Linked DNA regions of Homo sapiens: region 2 is linked to region 1. Evidence: fine-mapped expression QTL. A gene starts in region 1. The other region holds a variant in brackets. All regions are shown on one strand. Distances are from middle to middle. Region 1 holds the start of VPS37A (VPS37A subunit of ESCRT-I). Region 2 overlaps MTMR7 (myotubularin related protein 7).

What was found.
Region 2: its variant is fine-mapped to the expression of VPS37A in cerebellum (GTEx, PIP 0.94).

Annotation. Positions count from the first base shown.
Region 1 is chr8:17,239,879-17,251,556 of GRCh38, reverse strand. It overlaps VPS37A (VPS37A subunit of ESCRT-I), which reads right to left and starts at 4,599. Exons shown (of 12, transcript NM_152415.3): 1 at 4,188-4,599. The coding sequence starts at 4,312. It overlaps CNOT7 (CCR4-NOT transcription complex subunit 7), which reads left to right and starts at 4,700. Exons shown (of 7, transcript NM_013354.7): 1 at 4,700-4,882; 2 at 6,310-6,521; 3 at 8,372-8,565. The coding sequence starts at 6,405. RefSeq lists an enhancer at 4,103-4,951.
Region 2 is chr8:17,327,094-17,339,647 of GRCh38, reverse strand. It overlaps MTMR7 (myotubularin related protein 7), which reads left to right. Exons shown (of 14, transcript NM_004686.5): 7 at 8,366-8,498. It also overlaps a transcript of VPS37A not described here. Among named protein-coding and RNA genes, the nearest start is that of MTMR7, 80 kb to the left of the region's middle. RefSeq lists an enhancer at 2,606-3,805 and a silencer at 4,874-5,168. The variant T/C (reference allele first, on the strand shown) is at 7,343.

The sequences.
Region 1 (11,678 bases):
GAGAGATCTACAAACAATAAGCTGGCTAGAAGCTTATAGGCTAAGAGGCAAAGATTCAAGCACACTGATTCTATGCAGTAGAAAGAAGGAATGTAATTCGTCCTATGCCTACTATGTGCTAGATACTCTTCCAAATGTCTTACATATATTTTTTAGTTATCAAAAATCCTGCATGACAGGAATCACAATTGCTGATTTTACAGATAGGAATTGGAGGATCAGGGTTGTCTCACATAAAAATATCCAAAACATGAGACATTTCTTCCTCCCAGTCATTTGTTACTATTGCTGAGAAAACATTTTGAGCAGCTCCCCAGCAGACTTCCCCTCCAACTCCCACTAACCAAGAGTCCTGCTTCCACAGTAACTTGGGGGGAAGGGTGATGAGACCATCATCACTGGCATAAACAATCCTTATTCACCTCTAGTGGAGGCTGGGTTGAAAGATTCCAGCCTCCACAAAGTATGGGCCTTGCAGAGGGAAAAACCAACAGTGTCCATAAAGTCAGCTTCCTCAGGAAGTATAAGAAACAGAATTAGTTCTACTCCTGTCCATAAAGTCAGGAGTTTTGGTGATAAACTGAATACTGTGGTAAGTGATACTTAGAAGAGAGAACATATTACTTGAGCCCAGGAGGCATAATTTCTAGTTTCCATTTTCACAGCTGACTTAAACACTTTGGTTAAACACTTTTCTGTGAGTGTCATCTATGACAGTTATCTCATTTGCCGTGCATATTGTTGAGACTCAGATGAAAAAATTTACATAAAATTCACCTATTTTTTTTGTAGAAGACTGAGGTAGCTGAGGAGATAAGAATTTAAGGCAACTAAAAAGTTCACAATCATTAGAGAAAGGGACAAAAAGAGACTGCTGAAGTGGAATTTTCGGAATTATAAGGGGTTAAAAATTGTAAGAGTTGGAAGGGAGATGACAGAATGGGGTAGAGAAAGGTTACTCAGTAGAGCAGAAGAAAAGATACTTTCATGGCCAAAAAAAGATATTCACCTATTGAGCTTACATTTGGAGAAGAGACATAAAACGAAACATGAGGGAGATGGACAGCATGTAACAAGATATTGATATTCCTCATGTAACAAGTTTTTGTACTGTTCATAGGAAAAAACACACTGGAAATTCTTTCAACTTTTACACACCACACCTTTAGAATAACCAATCTGTCTGTTCGCACAAAAATCTTTTAAGTGTAAGTCGTACCACTAATTTAGGTAATCAGGCAACATATTGCCAGTATTGGGGCTCAGAAAACAATACCCCAAAATATTGCACTTTGGTAGGCTGATTACTTTGAATTAAAGGAGTCTGGAGGGCCTCAGAAGTAAAGCTCTCTCTGACCACCTCCTGCCCCTCTTTCTCCATTGAAGAAGTCATAGAAACCAGAATTCCTCCTCCCCTGGGCGGTATATTACAAACTACAACCCTTCTTCCCTACAAAAAATCTAGAAAGGTCACTTTCCCTTCCGCCCTGAAGACCCTCACTCCATATGAGCCCGGGCCGGTCCACTAGAGGAGTAGAAAGTTATACAGAGAAGCCAAGAAAAATCTGAACAAACAGGCCTTGGTGGGTTTCCCCTACCTCTGTCTATTACCATTACCATACTCTTTTTGTCCAATCACATTTCTACATGGCTGTCCATTCTTCATTGAACCTAATCATAAATACAGACAGTTTTCCTTCGGTCTCTGGGGCTTCATTTCTGAAGGCTCCCATGCAGTGTAAAACTTTGATTAAATAAATCTGTTATGCTTTTCGCTTGTTAACCTGTCTTTTGTTACAGGAGGGTCAGCTGTGCCCCTTATGACTGATGAGAAAAAATATCACACCTTTTCCATCTTTACATCAGATACCATACAGACAGATTATTTTTTACCTCCCAGCTTACAAATATATGTCATTATTTAAAAGGGTGGACTAACAAGAATAGGTGAGTGGCATTTTCCAGGATTGTGCCATTCTTTGAAAACTGGAAGCATATGACCTACTTAAGTGTCTCCGGAATTATTCGAGTATAATTTGTAAATGCGAAACATCTCAATAAAACTTCAAGTGTTTTTATAAAAGAACTTAAAACAATAAAATACTTAGTTATTTGTTCATAACACTACAAAATAAATTACATTATCTAATGTAATCATGTCCAATCATACGTTCATAATTTCTGGTTCAAAAAATAATACATAAAATGAATCCTTTCTGTATCCAACTCCGCGTATTTACTGATCCTCTTAAGCCAATTCCAGAACTCTTTACATTAACAATTGCTGCTATAGAATCTCACTTTATTTGGGAGGCCAAAATTATAAATTTCACATCAATTACTTCCCTTACTTACCAGCCTTAGCAGCAAGAGACTTTGTAGTATTTAAAAAATTAAACTCCAACCTCGAAGAAAAAAATTAGTCAGCATTGAAAATATTTAACATAATACTACATACTAAGGTTTAAAAGCAATTAATTCCAAAAGTGTGGTTCTAAAAAAGTGTTTCTGCAATAGCAGGACTGGTTTGGTATATAGTCTACCAAGGTAACAACTTCTAAGGGAACAAACATGTTAAAAACGAGTCCCCTTATTTTATAAGCATACCTTGTGAGAGTAGCTCTTAAAGGTCAGTACAGAACATGATTTGGAGTAAGAGTGACTTGTAAGAACTTTGCGAACTTAATTTTCCAGAATGAAAGCCACCAATAACAGCCTGCCATTCTTTTCTGTTAAACAGCATAAAATTTCACCTTTTGAAAGTTCTGAACAAACAGAACAATTGAGACAACGAACCAAGAAACACCTAAAGTTCAGTCAGCATCAGGCCTTATTTTAGCCAAACTGATTTTGCAGTAAATTTTTCTATTAACTAGACTATTTAATTAAAAATTATTCCATTTTAAATAAGAATTATTCGATATTATCTGAGGATACATATTTTTTAACTGTATGAAAATAATATTTTTAAAAGGGCTAGGAGCCCGGCGAGGTGGCTTATTCCTGTAATCCCAGCACTTTGGGAGGCCGAAGCGGGTGGATAATCTAAGGTCAGGAGTTCGAGACCAGCCTGACCAATGTGGTGAAACCCCGTCTCTACTAAAAATACAAAATATTAGCCGCGCATGGTGGCGCGCACCTGTAATCCCAGCTACTCGGAGGGGTGTGGGGAGCTGAGGGAGGATGATTGCTTGAATCCGGGAGACGGAGGTTGCAGTGAACCGAGATCGCGCCACTGCGCTCCAGCCTGGGCAACAGGAGAGCCGTACCCCCGGCAAAAAAAAAAAAAAAAAAAGGGGTTAGGGACTTAACAATGTTGTCATCTTTATTTAAAATAGTGTGAAACTGTTAAGTAAATATACTTGCAAAATGCATAAAATATAAAGAAGCAGTTCTAATTTTTGAAAACCATTAGAGACCATAGACATTTGCAATGTAAAAGGCTGCAGCAAACCAATTTACAGTAAAAGTTGAAATAATATGAATTGTAAAAATATTTCTAAACTGACCATGATAAAATGAAAAACTCACAGGAAGACAACAGAACAATCAAGATGAACATAAAGTAATTCTTGAGCGTGGGGACAAGACTATGAAAGAAGTGAGAAATGTACATGCACTGGTCGCTGTGAGATGGGGAGAGACTGCTCCAACAGGGTAAATCTTAGAGACTCAAGAAGACTGACTACGTGATAAGTGACTCTCAGACGAGAAGCATTCACTGATGAAAACTCTGGCTTCCCTTTCCTTTGATGTTGCAACAGTTCTATTTTCCATTCTTTGTGAAACCTGGAGATTACTCTTCACAATTGTATTTTAACAATTCTGCTGACGCGGCAATCAGGTGGGCAAAGGGAAAGATCAGTGGCGAAGCCTGGGCAGCAAGGGATACTGGAAATAGACTATGAGAGAGATTGAGAGATTACAGTCAGCAGCTATGTGTCAGGAGGGATGAGGAAATCCGAGTTAGAAGCGCTGAGCAGTGGTGCGGCAGGAGGCAGGGAGGGTCCGGAGGAAAACAGTAAAAGGGGGCAGGAGTGGCAGAGCAAGCGTGTGACCCACAACCAAGGGAGGTAAACCACATGAGGAGCTGGTGGGGAGCAGACTGAGGCGCTGTGAGGGTGGTTAGGACAAGCCCGCCCTCCCACCCTACTTTTTCCTCCGGTGGAGAGGCAGCGACCAGTCACCTGGAGTGTGAGTTCCGGAGGGACTCGATCAGGCGCTGCTTCTGCTGCTGGAGGCTGGTGAGGCCACCGGGGGACCCAGCCGCGGAGGAGGAGGCGCTCTTGGTCAGGGGAAAAAGCCAGCTCATCCTCCTCGGGTCCACGGGCCGGAGGCCCTGGAAGGCTCTGGCCTGCTTCTCCCAGTGGCTCGGCCCGGCGGTTCTCCAGCGACAGAGGAGCGGGGTGGGACGTCCGTGGCCCAAGCGCTGGGGACCGCGTCTTCTCTAAGCCTGTCCTGCCTGCGCTCCCCGAGTTCTGGGGGACATGCTACGAACGGCGGGCGGCTGGAGAGGGAAACTTGCGGCCCGGAACAGGAGGTCCCACCTTCACGGCCCAGACGCCCAAACCGGCCAGCCAGGGAGCCTGGCCGCCCAGCGCTCCACCACCCGCGCCGCCGTCACTTGCGTGCCCCGCCCCCGGGGGCGCTCTCCGCCCCCTCTGCGTGTCGCGTCATCATCTAGCGCCCCCGTCAGGACGTGCGAAAAGCGACGGCGCAGCACGGTGCGGCGCAGCTCCTGCTCGCCTTTCCCTTCGCTGGGCGAGAGGTGTCTATGGGGCACCCGCTGCCGCCGCCGCTACCGCCACCGCCACCGCCACCGCCGCCGAGTGCTGTCTCTATGGCGAGGAGGAGGAGGAGGAGCGCGAGCTCAGCGACACAAGTAGATCTTGCATCCGCTGCAGCCTTACGGGGGGAGGGGCGGGTTAGGGAAGTAGAAAGGGGGCGGGGACGATGAACCTGAGAGGGTGCGCGATGGCGCCAGCTGGAGTGCGGCTGGCGGAGGAAGGAGCCTGGCGGCGGGTTGGGGGCTGGGTAACTGGGGCTGGGGGTTTGTCAAGGGGTTGGCGCGTAGTGATGACGCAAAGGCTTTGTACCTGGGGCTTCGCAGTGGGACGGAAATTGGGAGTGGAGGGCGGTGGCCTAGATCCTCACCTCTTCGTATTGTTTCACGCGGCAGTGCTTGGGAGTCAGTGTAGCTCCAGTCAGTGTTATCAGCACCTTCGCACTGGCGCTTTGCCAGGGAAGAGAGTTATCTATGGCTTGAATACCTCGGTGCCGTCCTCTCGTTTCTCTGGGAAACTGCAGTACGGAGATGCTTTCTCCAGTAATGAGAAGGCCTTTGGTGTCTCTTCGGGGCTTCTGGGACTGCAGTAGAGAGAGAGGTGGAGGAAAACAATGTTAGACTACAGGGTCTTTCCAAGTCTTTGTGTTTTTGTGCTTATGTGTGTGTGTGTGCCTATCGGGGTGGGAGAGTTATAAAGGAGGGGTGTCCTGGATCTCCTTTAGTTTCTCTACTTGGAGAATTGGAAGTTACATTTGTGACTCTTCAGAGTTTAGAAGACAGTCATAAGACCCTCTTTTTACTCTTGTTTTTTTTTTTTCCAATTTGTATGAAAAATGCAGAAGGATTTGAAATTTCCCTGCCCAAGAATCAACAGGAACTCTGTTTATAGACCAGAAATGTGACATCTATCTTTGGTAACCATGCAATATGCTCTAAGTTTTAGACGTTCTATTGTGTTCTTTTTCCGTTCTGCAACTGCGAACATTCAGATAATTTTCATGGCCGTTACTTTTTTCTCAGAGCATTTACAAACATTTTTGACCCCTCTAGTCTAGTTAGAATAAACGCCGGTAAAGTAGATCTTGTTATCAAGTCGGATTTTGGTTGTTTTATTAATGAGGAATAAAAATAAACACCATCTTTGCCATGGTAACATCTGATCTTGTCACATGTAAATAAGTAATTTTTCATTTTTTGTCTGGAAATGGATGGCTTTATAAAGTTTTATGCAGAGTAGTTGAACTCAGATAAATAATTAGTGGAAAGTTATAAAATATGATTAGTATGTATGTGTAAAAAAGCTATTTTAAAATAACTGAAATTAGGACCAGGAAATCTGTACTGTAGTCCTTTTTTTCCTATAGACTAGCTGTGTGACCTTAAGTTACTTTCTAAACTTTGATTTTTTTTTTTTATGAGTCAAGAACTTTGAATAAATAACTTCTTAGGTTCCTGCTGGATCAATTATTCTGTGATTCAGATTTGATATATCTGGTCTTCATATTGTTTTTTTATTTTGACAGGTACATAAATAAAGGATAAAATATTTTATGAAACAAATCTTCAATCAAGTATAACATTTTGATGCTTGGCATCTAGACTCCCTTGTGCCCTCACTATGCCAGCGGCAACTGTAGATCATAGCCAAAGAATTTGTGAAGTTTGGGCTTGCAACTTGGATGAAGAGATGAAGAAAATTCGTCAAGTTATCCGAAAATATAATTACGTTGCTATGGTATGCCCACAAGCAGATCTTTAAAACGCTTCATATAAAGGAGGAAAAGGAAATTTTAAAGTCTTGAATTCAACCCTTTTGGTTGATATTTTTAGGGATTAATTTCACCATGAAAAGTAAAATTTGTCACTGCCCTCCAGCCAAAATCCATCAGGAATACACCTGTGATTTGACAGGTTGGGTTTATCCCTCATTGCAGTGAGGGAAAACGCACTGGAATTCATGGGAACCATGGGCCGTTTGAATAAGAGTTAGGAAGGATTTGGGCTCGTGTCAGGTGGTCTTAGGGGAAGGTAAGGGAAGCAGAGCTTTACTGTGGATTGGATGTGTTCGGGAAGCTGGGGTAATTCTGTGATTGGGTATCTTACTAAGTCTTAAATGAGAGACTAGAATGAGGTTAAAGCTGCAGAGAAGGAACAGTCATTCATTTAGCCAGGATGGAGATACTTGGTCATTTTGTGGTTTGACATTTTTATTTTTTTGTCCTTGTTCAGACATGATTACAGAGTGGCCTTATTTGAGGTTGAACTTTTGTGAAATTGTGTTCAACAGGAGAACATTAGGGCGTGGCTATGAGTGCCAGGTCTGCTCCTAGCAACACCAAAGCCTAGCTGGTAGTACCACATGAGCTCCCAGAAGCTAGGGTGCTCTTTCTCAAACAAAAAAATCAGATGTGCCAGTGAAACGTTGTTGGTCTGCAATTTGTTTTCATAATTAACACTGGAGTTCTGTGAATATACTGTGTTACTAAGCAACTCTGCTTTTGCACGTGCTGTTTGGTCTGCCTAGATTGTCTATCCAGTTAATGATTTTTCTTCTTTACCATTATACTGTCTATATCTGTTAGCTACCCTACTGTTTTCTACATCCACTGGATTATTATTAGCTCCATAAACCAAGTGTTTTAATCCTTTCTCTCCCAACACCTAGCATAACACATATAGTATTCAATAAAGTGGCTGTTGAATTGCACTGAATTTAGAGAAATATTGATTTCTTTACTATTTCATAGTGACTTGATAGGTAGTTTTTATTCTTAGCTAGCCCTAGTTTGAATTCTAATACTAAACCGATGTATCTTTGTCTCAGTATTTTTAATAAAAATAAACAAATGCATTACTTTGGGGAGGAGCAAGTTGATTGGTTAAAATATGACTGTTTCTTTGTAGATGACATACTATTTGATAAAGGTGTACTTACCCATGATTAGAACTAAAATTGTTTTCTTAACCAATGGAAATTCATAGTGATCATTGATTTCTCAGATGATAAAGAGTGGCAACATAGAGAAGTGATAACATCCTACAAGAGTGAGTAGGTGGCATGCAATTCTTGACAGCATGCTTTCTGTGGACTATAGAGAGAATATTGTTTAAGCCAGAGAAATTAGGAAGCTAATGATGTTTTTCTTAGGGTTTTGGTGTTGAGAAAAACCTTGTGTCAGAGAAGCAATTGGAAAGTACAGGGCGTTTTCCCCTCTTTTGAACCAGTTCTTCAAGAAACTTGGTTTTAGCATTGGAATACTGTGAGCATCATTTCATGTATCCTTTGGGAGACAGGAATTTATGATTTTCCCCCCTTTCTTGGTTATAGAGTAAGTATTTGGTTAAATTTATCACATGTATCTCGTATAGTAACTTTTTGGATATATTTAAGGAAAGGTTATTAAGTTTATAGAGTTTTATGGTTCTAAAAAGTGATGTTCTTTCTAGTTAAAATATACTTTGTAATTGAATATAAATGTGTAGAATATCATCTGTAGGATTCTTTGATTTGCATCAAAAATTAAAAATGTGTGGATTGTAGTTTTGACTGTTTAGTACATAATGAATCTTAAAACTATTTTACAGGACACCGAGTTTCCAGGTGTGGTTGCAAGACCCATTGGAGAATTCAGGAGCAATGCTGACTATCAATACCAACTATTGCGGTGTAATGTAGACTTGTTAAAGATAATTCAGCTAGGACTGACATTTATGAATGAGCAAGGAGAATACCCTCCAGGAACTTCAACTTGGCAGTTTAATTTTAAATTTAATTTGACGTAAGTGGGAAATAACTGTATAACCCAGACTTTTTTTTTTTTTTCTTTAATCTTAGGAATTGATTTTCCTCAAGTATGGTGACATGCTAGGTGAATTTGGTGTAGTTATCCTGGAAATATATAAAACGTAACATTTCAAAAGCGTGGTTTTCTTTTTTACTATGGGACCAAAAAAAATACTTTGATGTTAAAGATGTTATATTTAAAATATGACTGCAGCTTTTTTTGTATTTGGAAGACTGGGTATTGAAAGTACTTCTGATAGAAAAAATAATCCTACATTAGTTTTACTTTCAAAAATTTTGTGTGCAATTTGAAATATAGCCTTTTATAATATTTATCCTTCTTGTGAAGATTTTTGTTGCATTCATATTCCAGTTTATGAGTAGATTACATGTCAAATGCAGTAAGACGTTTTCTGGAACCTTGGGTACGTTTTCCTTTCAAGTCAGTATTATCATTAGGTTGCCACTTCAGCCCACAAAAGCTCTCTTAATTTACATATAGGAGAAGTAGTAGTATCCTTGAACCTGGTGTTTATCATATGTCAGAATCTTCATTCTAACTCAAGCCCTGGGTCTTCACCCAGTTTCCTTAGTTATAATATTTCTGTATTATTAATAGAAGTAGTCTTGATAGCTAAGGGAAGTTTTAGATGTTTTTAGAGAGGGGCAGATTATTTGCAAACTAAGTTGGGTAAATAAAATAATACATTCTTATTACAGCAGGACCTCAAATGACATTTTCTTCAACATTGTTTCATGGTAACCTTCATAAAAAATAAAATTGATTCCTGACCCGGGCCACTACCTGAGTGGAGTGTGCACGTTCTCGTGTATATGTGGATTTTCTCCCGGGTCCTCTGATTTCCTCCCACATCCCAAGGCTGTGCACGTTAGGTGAAATGGTGTGGCTAAGTTGTCCCAGTGTGAGTGAGTAGGTGTATCTGTGTGAGTGCACTGTGCCACGGAACGACATGCTGACCAGGGTTGGTTCCCACATTGTGCCCTGAGCTGCCAGAATAGGCTCTGGCTTTCTTCACCCCTCAACTGAATAATGGAGCAAATAATTATCTTGTTTTTATTAATTGTTCTTAAATTTACATATAGCTCACATTTATTTCATTGTTTAATATTAGAAGTATTTTGGTCTTTATCTAGAAGTTTGATGATTTTTTTGTGACCAGAAATATGCCGTAGGAACTTAACTCTTGTTTTTATCAATTAGCCTGTGGTAAAAATTGGTTTCGTTATCCATCTTTTGGCTTAAAGTTGCAATTTCCAAGAACTTATTGATAACGTTGAGTGAGTACTTAACTGTATGTTGCAATATTGCATTGTTCTTCTGTTTGACATCCTACATTTGTGTCATACATCCTAATATCTGGTAGGTAAAATAGTGAAAGAAACTGTAGGCAATTAATGGTAGTGCCAATGTATGAATTCTTTCTTCCTGTTCTTTGTCAGATAAACAAAGATATTTAGTATACACAATTTTACGAAAGTAGGGCTTAGGAAAAGCAGAGTAATGATGCCTGTGGTATAGTAGTGTGGCTTGTAATTACACTGTGTTTAGCCTGACTCTCCATTTCACTCTTTTGGGTTTAATAATATACTCTCCATTTGGAGACCAAGGCAGGAGGATTGCTTGAGGCCAGGAGTTCTAGACCAGCCTGGTCAACATAGACTCTGTCTCTACAAAAAAAAAAAAAAAAAATGAAACTAAGCCAGGCATGGTGGCTGTGTACCTGTAGTCCTAGCACTACAGGTACAGGTACAGGTAGCTAGCACTACAGGTACAGGGAGGCTGAACCAAGTGGATTGCTTTAACTGAGGTGTTCAAGGCTATAGTGATCTAGATTGCACCACTGCACTCCAGCCTGGGCAACAGAGTGATACTTTGTCTCTAAAAATACCTGTATCTATACACACACGCACAGTCTACAGAACCTTGTAAAGTAAACTTGTCCAACCCTTGGCCCAGGATGGCTTTGAATGCAGCCCAACAGAAATTCGTAAACTTTCTTAAAACATTATGAGATTTTTTTGTTGTTGTTTAAGTTAGTTTATTTAATGTGTGGCCCAAGACAGTTCTTTGAGTATGGCCCAAGGAAGCCAAAAGATTGAACACCTCATTTATAAAGGGTGCAAAGTACTCCACTCAAACTGAAAACCTTTTATAAGAACTACATCTGTGAAACACTGAAAATTGCCTCCTATCCTTTTTCTCAAATGATAAACCTTTATTAAAATTAGTGCTTTACCATTTCATTTGTTCCATGTTAACTTTTTGTTCAAGTGAATTAGAACATTGTTTTTAAATTAGATACTATTGTGATCTCAGTACGTGAGAAGGAGGTAACCCATCAGCTTCTCAGTTTGGATAAAATTGACAGTTTCCTTTTCTAGAAACACCTTTGTTCGAGTAACAACTGCTTTCTTAGTACAGCCTGTAAGTGACATTTTTTCTTTCTTACTCAAAAATGACTGCTAAAGTTTACTACCAAGTTTTGCTACCATTTACACTAGGGGTGTCTAATCTTTTGGTTTCCCTGGGCCACACTAGAGGAAGAATTGTCTTGGGCCACACATAAAATACACTAATGCTAACAATAGCTGTTGAGCTAAAAAAAAAAAAAATCTCAAAATGTTTTAAGAAAGTTGACAAATTTGTATTGGGCTACATTCACAGCCATGCCGGGCCACATGTGGCCCACTGGCTGCAGGTTGGACAAGCTTGATTTACACTGATGTTAGGAGATGTTTAAGGAGAAGGATACAGTGAAAAACATTAGGTAGAAGAAGTCATTTGGAAGATAAACGAGTAATGCCTAATATAGAGAGAGCACCGTGAAGAGAATCTTGGAAATTTGGAAGAAAGATCAAAATTGACTTTTTAATGGGGTGGCTAGAATGAGTGTCAGTTACAGTGCTAGACACTAGGGATTTAGTACTGAGGAAAGTTGGTCGTGGTCTTTATAACTCAGTGTTTTGTAACTCTTCTGTTTTCTCTCTATTGCCTAAGTCTAAGAATTACAATTGTAACGTATGGGAATTCTCTCCAAACTGAATTTGGAGTTGATACATCCATGAAAATTGAAGTGGAGTACTGAT
Region 2 (12,554 bases), 88 kb before region 1:
AATGGATTTACAAAATATGGTATGTCCATTCAGTGGAATATTATTCAGCTATAAAAAGGAATGGACTATGGATACATACTGCAACATGGAGGAACCTTGAAAGTGTCATACTAAGAGGAAGAAGTCTGTCACAAAGGAATCATGAAATGCTTTCAACAGGCAATTTCAGAGCTATTGAAAGTAAACTGATGGTTGCCGAGGGCTGGGGGAAGGGAGAGAAATGGTGAGTGACCGCTAATGGGTAGTGGATGTCTCTTTAGGGTGATGGAAATATTCTAAAATGAGATCATGGTGATGGTTGCACAACTCTGTGGGTATACCAAACACCATTGAGTCGTATGCTTTAAATGGGTGAATAGTATGACATGTGAATTACATGTCAGTGAAGGTATTAAAAAAAGAACATAGGAAATAAACATTACAACAGGAAGGGTAAAATAGAACCAGCAGCTCAAGTCATTTAAAAGTGTACACTGTGGGGAAGAGGTAATTATAGACACGGTCTACACTCATTGGTGATCCCAGAAATCACGAGAACTGCATCCTATCCTTTGTGTGGATACTCAGGCCTTGGTGATTTTCACGGATTCTCTGAACTTCATGTCACCAAGTATTATGATTTGTGTCCAGGATAATGGAATGTGATGTTTTCCTAGAGTGAGATCAGTGCCCTACTCGTCCCCTCATCTCAGAACCATCCAGTCTTCTTCGGAGCAAAGCACACAGCGGGAGAGAAGTGTGTGGAGTTACTACTCACGGATGCCAGATGAGCGAATCAGTCCTGGAGATCAGTGATGAAACCGATACCACAGCTAGATCACATTCACATTCTACTAGATTATAAGTAAAGGGTCCCTTCCTTTTAAATTCTCAGAGCACGACACACAGATAAAAGTTTCAAACTGAAAAAAAAAAAAATAGCTCCTTTGCTGGAAGATTTTCACTGAAACATACCAGAAAATCTCTGGCTTTTACTGTTCTCTGTCAATTTGTGCCCTTCTCTCTGGCTCATTGTGTTTAAACCCTTCCTTCTAATGTGACTGCCTTCCCACCTCTTCTTCGTACCCTTTGTTGAAGCAAGGTGGGGCTGTTTTGAATTTCCTAATAGTTACAGATGATTTAATGATTAGCTGCTTAGATATACTGAAGACAAGATAAGAAAAGGAAGAGAAAAGACGGGGGCTTTACTGAGGAGAGATTGGGAAGCCTGTTTCTTACCCTGTTTTTTTCAGATTTAAATAAAGCCAGACAGATTCACCTACTAATTTTAGGACCAGTGATCCAGATATGTACTGTGTTGTGTAAACCTTCTAGGAAACGTGGCAGCTGTAGAGCCAGGCATATTCCAGATTTAAAATAAGTTAATCCAAAGGATTTGATTTGAAGGGTATATTTAGTGCTAAGTGTGTTTACTCTCAGCGATGAGTTTGACACTGATCCATTAAAGAAAACTGGGGTTTCGTACAAGCCATGCCCTCTTCTCATATTTATCCATGCACGCACACTTCACGTGAGTTTTAAACTGTTTACTTAGAGCTTTCATTCTTTTAAAGACTGTGTATGTTGATTTTTGTTCCAGAGTGTGTTAGGCCTCCTTGGTAGCCAGGAGACTGAGTTTGCTCTAGAAGGTGTGGACCCTGGCAAGCAGGCACTTCTCAGGTTTGCTCACAGGTTTCATTAAAAAGAAAAAGGATTAGGAGCTGACCTGAATCGTTCCTGGCCTTTGAGCAAGGCTAGCCCCACATGAGAACTTCCAGAGCTGCCTGTTCAGATGAAAGCCTCAGAATTACTTGTTGACATTTTTTGGGAGACACCAGCCTGGGCAACGTAGTGAGACCCCCATCTCTACAAAAAACAGAAAAAAATGAGCTGGATGTGGTGGCATGGGCCTGTAGTCCCAGCTATTTGGGAGGCTGAGGTGGGAGGATTGCTTAAGCCCAGGAGTTTGAGGCTGCACTGACCTGTGATTGTGCCACTGCACTGCAGCTTGGGCAACAGAGTGAGACCCTGTCTCGAAAGAAAAAGAAAAAATTGGGAGACAAAGTCAATGAAGTCTTCAAGCATGTATTGAATGTCAATTCCAAAAAAAAATTATACTCTTCAGGGCACGTATTAGTGCTAGGGTGTGGCGCTTTAAGAACATATGAAGGTGTTGTCGCAGTCTTCGCTGAATTTTCAAATGAGGGCTAACTCACTGCAGCCTTGTTCATGACTTTGTCATTAATTTGTTCTGGGACTTTGCTGAGCTTGTAAAAATGGCAGGCACTTTTTTTTTTTTTTTTTTTGGGACGGAGTTTTACTCGCCCCCAGGCTGGAGCTCAGTGGCACGATCTCGGATCACTGCAACCTCCATCTCCCGGGTTCAAGTGATTCTCCTGCCTCAGCCTCCCGAGTAGCTGGGTTTACAGGTGCCCGCCACCACGCCCGGCTAATTTTTTTGTATTTTTAGTAGAGACGGGGTTTCACCAGGCTGGTCTCGAACTCCTGACCTCAGGTGATCCGCCCTTCTCGGCCTCCCAAAGTGCTAGGATTACAGGCGTGAGCCACGGTGCCCAGCCAAGGTACTTTCTCATTTAGTTCTTTTAAGAATCCTGGCAAGTTAGGAGGGTTTTGTTTTGTTTTGTTTCTTTTCATGGATAAGGGCTAGAACTTAAAGAGGTTAAGTAATTTGCCCAGGGTCTCACAGTTTACATTCCAGGATTCACATCCAGGCTTATCTAACCCCAGAGCCCACACTCGCTCCGTTTGACCATGGTGTTTTTTCTGTTTACAAAAATTCTCCAGCAGAGCCTCGTTTCCACGTGGAAGCTCTGTGGGGTTACCACCTCTGAGCACACGCCTGACGAGGCCAGAGAACCTCCCAGCAGCTCCTCTGACGCAGCCAGGGCCAGCGGAGGGGGTGCTGAGGCATGAAGAGAAGGGCCGAGGGCGAGGCAGCGCTTGCCTCCGTGACGCCTGGCCTTTTGTCCTTGCTCCTTCTCCAGAGACTTTGCTGTGGTTCTGCCCCGTGATTTCACCAGGTCAGCGAGGTTTTAGTTGTGTAACAGGATGTCACGTGGGATGTTTTTCTTTTTCTCTGGAATTAGTGAGTAGGTGGTTCCTACTCGCTGAGTCCTGGGAGGGGTCACCTAGGAAAGTCAGTGGTAGAGATGAGGGGTGCTTGAGAGAGGGGAATCGGGGGTCTCACACTTGCTGGTGGCCGTCATGGCAGCAACCAGAGTGAAGAGAACTGGGGCGAGGGCAGTGTCCAGTGGCCGTGGAGCAATCTGTGCTCCCTCCTTTTGGCAGGGCAAGGATGGAGAAATTTCCTGTGGGTCCAGTGGAGCCTGAGGAAGGAAGTTGAGCATGAGCCATCTTGCTTCAGCATTCCTAAAAGGGCTCAGCCGCCGGGTGTCTTCAGCTGTAGGTGACTGGGGTGGGTGTGCTGGTGAGGGAAGTTGAGCGTACTGGAATAGACTCAAGCCAAGGCGCATCTCCTTTTTCAGTGAGATGTGTACTCCCTACCTCCAAAAACCTGCATCTATACCTTGGGAGATTGAGCACTTGGACGCTATGCCAGAGAGGGAAGTGGTGACCAACTCATGTCAACCGATGAAGAGAGAATTGGAACCCTGCCGAGCTTTCCAAAGAGAAATTTACCTCTTCTCTTCTCCCTCCTCTGCACCCATCCTCCCAGTACACAGATAGGGCCTACAATAAAGAGGAGAGGGAGGGTGGGCCGGAGCAAACCCCTCAGCAGTCCACACAGCCTGTAAGGCGGCGGGGAAGAGCTAATTTTGCGTCACATACGGGACTGGAATTCTAAGTTAGGCCGGATGGAGATTTTCTATCTGAATGTAAGTAAACCTGATGCTATTAAATCTGCCCAAGAGGTCCTTAGCGGGTAGAAAGGAGGATTTTGACTAGCACAGTTGTAGAGAATAGTTGCAAGGAATAAAATCAACTCACATGTTTGTGTCTGCACCACAAGTGAAGTTTCTTCCTGTAACCAGTTATATAGGAGGGAGAGAGAAAGACCGTCATTTGACCACCTGTGTTAGGGCAAGACCAAGTCCCCCTCCTGCCAAGATCAGCTTGTACGGTCATTTCCCAACCATGTCAGCGTAGGCACTGTCATTCTTCAGGCATTAAATGTAGCTGTGGAAATGGTAGACTTGAGGACTAAGGCAGTGACCAGGCTGACCTTTAACCTGATACCAAGATGAACACAGACTGAGTTTTTCTACATTTGATTGATTCAGGGTTAGGGTGAGAATCTCATGCTGTTTCTTCACAGTCTTGGCCTGCTCTCCCCGGGCCTCATTCTGTTATCCAGTCATTTATGCAGTTGCTCAGCCGGTCAGTAAATCTTCCTTGAGTGCCTGTTCCATGCCGGTTTGAAGGATACGGATGTGGCCATCAATGAGACACTCAGGGCCCCTCGTGGAGCCTGCGTTCTCCGTCCCTCCTCTCTGTCAGCGCTGAGGTTTTCCGTGCCCATCCCTCTCTGCTCGCTCCTTATTCCTGTGCATCTTCTCTGTTGTGGACACTAAATCAGTCTCCAGTTTTTCAGTTAGACTTGCTCAAAATCCTGGAGTTGCTCTCCGCTGCCACAGGTGGAGCCTCAGTTCCTTGGCTGGGCCTGTTGTAGTGGACCCTCAGTGCTTTCTAGCCTTCCCTCTTGCTGTAGCTGCCACACAGGAACCTTCGTCTTCACCTGGAGTGGTTCGCTCATTGGTTATGTAGAATGCCCTCCCCTCTCTCTCCATCCTTACAGATTGTGTTAAAGTCCAGCTCTAGCTTTCTCTCTTAAACAAAACGTTACCCCTGATCCCCAGGCCGACAGAGTTTCCTTAGATTTCAACTCCTGTCATTGTCACTGTCTCTCCCGTTGCTCAGCTCTTGCCCAGTCCTGGTGGATGTCATCTGGGACCACTGGGTGCCATGTGCTTTCCTTTCCATTGTCAGTTCTAAGCTGAAGGCAACAGGAACAGCTTCTTTTGATTCCACTTAACGCCTGGCCATAGTAGGTGTCTATACAGTGTTGACTTTGCTTCATTTATTAACTTCTCTGCACCCAAAGACACTGATATTATCAAACAGCAAATGAACCTTGTGTTAGGAAACAGGGTATTTTTGCAGTCCTACTTTTCACCTATCTGTTGTGTGTTTCTTAAACATGAATTGGAACTGAAGTGACTACCTTTATTGCTTTATCTACTTGAGAACTTTTAGGACCTGAAATGCATAGCTTTTCTTTAGTTGTGAAATGGAGTTCTCAGTCAAAGGGACAGAGGACCGTATTTGATGTAGTAATAGCGATTTGTTTATGTAAGGGATGCCGTATCTTACTGCGCACACATACACGTAAAATGTCCAAGATAACATTGAATTTTTATTAATTGTAAAACCGTATCTCCTGCTTTGAGGGTTCAGCTTTTGCTACATTATCAGGATAGGTCCTGTAAAAAAGGTGGAGATCCTAAGAAATTACACTTCAGCTGGTAGATGAAATATTGCCACCTTCTGTTCATTCTGAGAAGTGCACATTGATGTTCAGGAGGTTATTTGTGTTGCTGCTTTGCTTTTAAGGGAGATTACCAATCAGTTCTCCCAGATCAAGGATAATCAGCTATTTCATAATGTGTACATGGAGTCTTAATTATAGGTTAAAATAATATTTTAATTTTTGTTTATGTTTAAAAAATCTATTCTACATTCTAACTTTTGTAGACTGTGTAGTCTGTCTCTCTTTTTTTTTGTATCTCTGCCTGGGATAACCCTCCTGTCCCTTGTGGGTGAAGGAGGAGAATGATCAGTAACATGGGGTCTTGCTCTGTCACCTAGGCTGGAGTACAGTGGCACGATCACAGCTCACTGCAGCGTTGACCTCCCAGGCTCAAGCAGTCCTCCCACCTCTGCCTCCCAAGTAGGTGGGACTAGTCACATGCCACCATGTCTGGCTAATTTTTGCATTTTTTTGTAGAAATGGGGATTTGCCATGTTGCGCAGGCTGATCTTGAACTCCTGAGCTCAAGAGATCTCCCCACCTCTGCCTCCCAGAATGCTGGAATTACAGGCATGAGCCACTGTGCCTGGCTGGTTTTTCTTTCTTATGCTTTTTAAAAGAGTATCTCTGTGGTATGTGGTGAATAGGCTTCACTTGAATTAGTCAAGATACAGCATAAACGTAAGGTTCATGTCACGTAAGGATACTTTCAAATCTCCTATTAATTTTATTTATGATGCTTGTTATAAAGGATAAACCAACATCTTTGAAAAATAATTATACAAAGCAGTGATATTTTATTAGTTTTGGAAGAACAATGTCTATAGGTAATTTTACAAAAGTTTTCCCTATAAAATATTTATACTTCTTAAAGTGTGAACATAAGTTGTCTTAAAATGCATTATTTTAATATTTTTTTCTTGATTAAGGCCAAACTCTTTATTCTCGTAGCATGCCTGGGAGAAAGATGACACCCTTTTGTGGATGGGAACAGTGTCCTGAGGGGCTGATGTGGCCCAGCTGATGTCACATAAGCCACGTCATGGAGCAGGGCTGCTATTGAAATGTGAGGTGTCTGCCAGCCTGGGCTCCTATGGCAATGGCTTATCCTCTGCTGTTTTTTTCACTTCTAATATACTTTATTTCTATTATTTCAATTACAAACTTCATATATGCTCTCGGTATCAATGAAAGATTACAGGGGCATCCAAAGTAGTACTGATGGCATTCTCCTGTCGCCTGCCATGCTGTCTTTCTGCTGTAATTGCTGCCAAATTGGTACCGTTTTCTATACATTTTTATTCTGCTTGATAAACACGCAAAAACTTAAATACATATCTATAAGTTGGTTTTATAAAAATGGATGATTGTATGAATATTATTCTGTAGCTTACTCTTTTCACTTGTCATGGGCCAATGCCAAGTCTATGCACAGAGGGTCTCTGACTTAATGGTTCGACCTATATGATTTTGTGGCTTTTTACAATGGTGCAAAAGCAATAGACATTCAGAAAGTGTACTTCTCTTGTGATGCTGGGCAGCAGCAGCGGCAGCAGCTCCCAGTTTGCCATGCACTTTTCACTTACGGCATTTTCAACTTCCAATGGGCTCATCATGATATAACCCCATCGTAAGCCTCAGAGCATCTGTCTGTCTGCTGTGTGATCTGTGCCCTCCTTCTTGGTCACTGCTCGCAGGTCAGGGCATGATAAACCATTGTGTATCCTGTCATTGTCCTATTGAGATAGTCATGGGTTTTCAGCTTTTTTCAATAAACATTCTTGGGCATCTATTTTTATGTGCTGGTACTTTTAATTTTGTCAGACTTTTAGGAGATCTGTGTCAAAGAACATA[T/C]GTGTCTTTAACTTTAAACTTAGCTCTTTTAGCTTTTAAAAAGTACTATTGTGCACTGTGCTTTTAAAAGCAGATATTTTTTTCTGGTGGTGAGTTCTCAGTGTAGGTTCTCTGCCTGGGTTAGCCCTCCTGTCCTTGGTGGGTGGAGGAGGAGAATGGTCAGCGAATGCTGTTTTCTAGGATGTGATGACCTGCTTAATAAAATAGCAAGAATGTTTACACATTCTAGAAACCGATGCATTTCCCAGCTAAAGTAGGACTTGTCCCCTTCTTGATTTTAGCCACGCAGGCTAGGACAGTGTTTGGATTTAATAAACTTCTTCAGATACCACTGTGACTTAACCTAGTTTGCACTTGGAGACCCCAACTTCTCATATGCAAAATTATAATAATGAAAGTGATCAAAAAGCCCAATAGATCTCTAGATTTAAATAAGGCGGCTGGTGGAAATGTCTCTGGAGACTTGGTTGCATTCCCTCTCTTCATTTTATTCAGTAATTCCTGCTCAAGGTTTAACTGGGCATCTGAGGGATCTTGTGGGCAAATTAGAATGATGCAACCATTCCTATTTGATAACGTGTTTATTGGCAATCTAATACTAGAAGATATAATAATGTATAGAGCCTTATTTTGACAGCTGTTTCTGCTGATATTCTTCTGCCAACCTACCGGTTATGTGTGGTATTAAATTGGACTACTTGGTTCCATCACAGAATTCCACATTCAGTTTGGCATCTCTGACGGGGACTGCAAGTGACATCTCCAGAAGGGTTTATCAGTAGACTGCTTTCCAGCTAAGAAAATGTGACCCACACTGACAAATTCATGCTGTTGAATATAAGCTCAGCAGGAGTCCCTGAAGCTATGTAGTTCAGTACAAGGTTGCAGTGATTCAAATAAGCGTATTATGTTTCCGTACATCATTCTGAATGCTTTGATTGGGTATCCATGAAATGTTTTGGTTGTTTCATCATTGTTTCATCAATGTAATTGATGACTGTTCTGTTTTGCTGACCACTGCAGCTTAATGCAATGGCAAATCGTGCTGCAGGGAAAGGCTATGAGAATGAAGACAATTATTCCAATATCAAGTTTCAGTTTATCGGGATAGAGAACATCCATGTCATGAGGAACAGTCTGCAGAAAATGCTGGAAGGTAAACCATTTCCTTATGCACAGCATTAAAATGCAGTTAAGTATTTTGATGCCAAAAGGGAATAAGATAGTCTTGATTTTAAAATGTTTTTACATAGGTGTGATAATTTGGGAAGAATATCATGTTACAGTGGCTTTTTAAACACTTAAGAACGTTTCTCTTATTTGTAAGCATCACTGTGATGTGGTTTTGTCGCTTGGTGGTTAGCAGTCAGGGACTCTACAATGGTACTGAACATCTAAGGTCAAAGTGCACAGGGATGTTTTTGTTTCTTCCTCATAATGTTAGTTTGATCCCCATTCAAGGCCATTTAGGAATAAGGCAATCCTACATTTAAAGCAATAACCAACCATTCTTGTATGGAGATCAGGCTCAAAAACTGATCCTTGCTGAATGGCCATTCGAAGGGAGAATATCGGAGGAGCTGACCCTCATTTCTAAACAGCAGCCACCACAATACACATGCATGTAACCTCCCGCCACCTCCACACACACTTTGACATATATGGCGAACATGACAAGACACGTACCCACAGACTTATATACTCGTGTGGACAGGAAATTAAAGAGATGGATTATGTAATAGAGAAGAGTTATTCATGTGGCCAACCAGCCATATGCTGATGAGCAGAAATTCTGCATTTCAAGCAAAACCAGCTTAGTCCGCTGCTTCTGCTCCTTGTGATCACAGTGACCCCAAGAGGAATCTGTCGCTGTAGTCTACCACTTCCGGCTCTGCGAACTGGGAAAAGACAGAGGATGCAGAAACCATGGCCTTGTGCCTTGGCTGTCCATGCACTGTCTGCGCTTCTGGGGAAAGCCCTGGAGAGCTGGAGCTGGGAGCCCGGGAAGTGGGCTGTCTTGATGGGAAATGCAGGCTCTGGAATGAAGAGGGACAAATAAGGTGCTGAATTATTTTTTCCAGGAATCCACGTTTGCTCTCAGTTACTTAAGCCGTTCTTCGTTTAATCAGAACACCCTAACGTTGGGGTTGGAGAAATCTGAGTGTCACAAACAGGCCTAATTTCCATTCTGTTTCCTGGACTTTCTGGTTCATCTCAGTCATTATGAAACTTTGAACACATCAGTTAACTTGTTTGGGGCTGCATTACCTGCTGCAGAATGACAGGATTAGGCCAATACTTTCTATGGGTCTTCCAGCTGTGACAGTTTGATGCCCCTCTGTAGCAGAAATCCCTTCCTACATCTGAAAACATCTCAGCCCCAGAGCCATTTCCATCTTCTGTACATAATTGGCAGTCAGTCTCTCAGGTCACAGTGACAATACCTGACATTGTCTCAGGTCACAGTGATCATACCCTGGGCATGATTATTTGAGCAGCTTCAACTTTTGGAGATTATCATGCAGAGTTTGGCTGTTCCTGCTACAAACTATGTTTTTTATGTGTTGAAAAATTGGACTCCTTGGTACTGTTATTGGAAAGGCAGTCTGACTTTAGTCTGAAGACTGTTCATCATTTATCAGGACCCTTAAGTTATTTAAATTTTTTATTTAGTCATTTCATAAGATGACCTGGAGAACATAAATATTCTTCTTTGCAGAAAATTGCTCCTACCAGTGCTGATAGCATACACATTTGGCTTTTGTTTTTAAATGGGTAATCTTTGGTTTCTCGTCAGGAACCATTTCTCCTGCCCTTATGCCTGTGGTCTGACACTACTGTTTTCTAAAGAACATGCAAACTGACCAAGTTCTGGAGGGCAGCTGTCTGTTTCATAAGGGAACATGGTGCTTGCACGTAACTTTTCCAGCTACGTGCAGTGCAGTAGGCTAGGATATCTTTCTGGATGCCTGTACGTGGTCTTGACCAATGTTTGACTATCTGTTTTTACCGAGTAAATTATAAACCATTGCGGAGGCTGAGCTGATGATGAAGTGTTGCAATCAGACCCACCTTCTAAGGCTTTTCCTCCTTCAAACAGCTATCCTTGGCATCAAAGAGATATGAAGGCTCATACTACTGGTCACTTGGTAGGCAGAGGAATGAATGATGCGTTTCATTCATGATTATTATTTTCTGAATTATTTTTTACTACTGTTATGGATATAATCAGAATAGATTCTGAATAACAGAAAAGTAAAATTGTTTGCGTTCTGGTTTCAAACAGCTGTCTGTGAGCAAGAGCTGCAAGGTATTTCATCAGAAACTGAAATCTAGGACCAAGTTCACATCCTGTGTAGGTCCTCTATAGAGATGATCTAATTTTAACTTCCATTTGTAAGTCTCAACCAAACTATTTTTGTGGGATCTGTATTTCGTAAGGAGAGAAAATGATGCCTTTCAGTCACATAGCAAGCAATTTTGTTATTTAATGAAGTGATTTTCACGATAGTTTCCCTTTTGATAATATAGATACTGGCTTTTCCCTCAAGTAATAAGAGGATACCCTGTATTTTCTTTTTTTATTTAAAATTTTTAAGTTCTGGGGTATGTGCAGGATGTACATAAGTGAACGTGTGCCATGATGGTTTGCTGCACCTGTCAACCCATCATCTAACTGTTAAGCCTAGCAGGCATTAGCTATTTTTCCTTATGCTCTCCCTCCACTCCCCCACCCCCGCCAACAGGCCCCAATGTGTGTTATTCCCCTACGTGTGGCCATGTGTTCTCATTGTTCAGCTCCCACTTTTAAGTGAGAACATGTGGTGCTTGGTTTTCTATTCCTGAGTTAGTTTACTGAGGATAATGGCTTCCAGCTCCATCCATTAAAACAGTCCGTAGAAGAGCCTGGAATAGTCCCTTTCAAGGCCAGCCTATTATTATCAGCAGAGGTGGAGCTTTTACCTCTTAGGCATCCTGGGTGTTGGGGAGGAAGTGGTGAAGAGGAAGGTGGAAAGGTGTATGGAGTTACTTGCATCTCTCCACTTGTTGAGGGTGTGCCCCACTGGGACACCCTTCATATCTGCCCTGAAGGTCAGCAGGCACTGATAGGAAAGAAGCAACAGGGACATCTTCCTCCTCTGCCAATCAACTTGCCATCTTTTGGAGGTCACCTAGAAAATTTCACTTTCTCCCCACGAGTAGCTTTGTGCCTGCCTACCTTCCACGTGACTGTTAGATTAATACTGTTGGTCATTGTTTCACTGACCACTTATTCATCAATGTATTCATTAAACTAAAAATTGAGCAACTGCTCTTTGCCACACTTCATAAGTATTTTCATTTAAATGATTGTATGAGATTTTCACAACAATTGTGTGCAGTATGTGGTATTATCTGTACTGTATAGATGAAAAAGCATAATTTTTTAAAAGAGTAAACAGTAAGTTGAAATAAACATGTAGATAAACATGTAAATTTGCTCTGGTAATTAGAGAAATGTAAGTTAAAACCTCAAAGTACCATTTGCCACCCAATTTTTTACAAATTAAGATATTCAATACTCAAAAGAATGTGGTAAAACTAGTGCTCTAAATATTTATCGTATTATTTAAATTGGCTTAGACAGACATAATATATTTGGTTTAGAGATAGTTTTTTTTTTTACCAGGTTTCTTCCTCTTAGGGACTAATCCAAAATACGTTTTTAAAAAATAAAGATACAGGAAGGGCATGGAGGCTCATGCCTATAATCCCAGCACTTTGGGAGGCTGAGACATTGAGGATTACTTGAGCCACAGGAGTTTGAGACCAGCCTGGGCAACACAGTGAGACCCTGTCTCTACAGAAAATTTAAAAAATAAAAAAAATCAACCAGGCGTGGTGGTGTGTGCCTGTAGTCCCAGCTGCTCAGGAAGCTGATGTGGGAGGATCACTTGGGCCTGGGAGGTTGAGGCTGCAGTAAGCCATGATCGTGCCACTGGACTCCAGCCTGGGTGACAGAGAGTTAGGCTCTGTCTCAAAAATAAAATAAGATATAGACATGCCTATGTTGATAGTAGTGTTTTATTTATAATAGTAGAATATTGGAAGCCGAATGAATGTCTAACAGTAGTAGACTGATTAATTTTACTTCACCTTCTTGATAGAAAAGTTTGCATCCATGAAAAATACTAAATGTGAAGACTATATGTACTAACATGGGAGAATATGT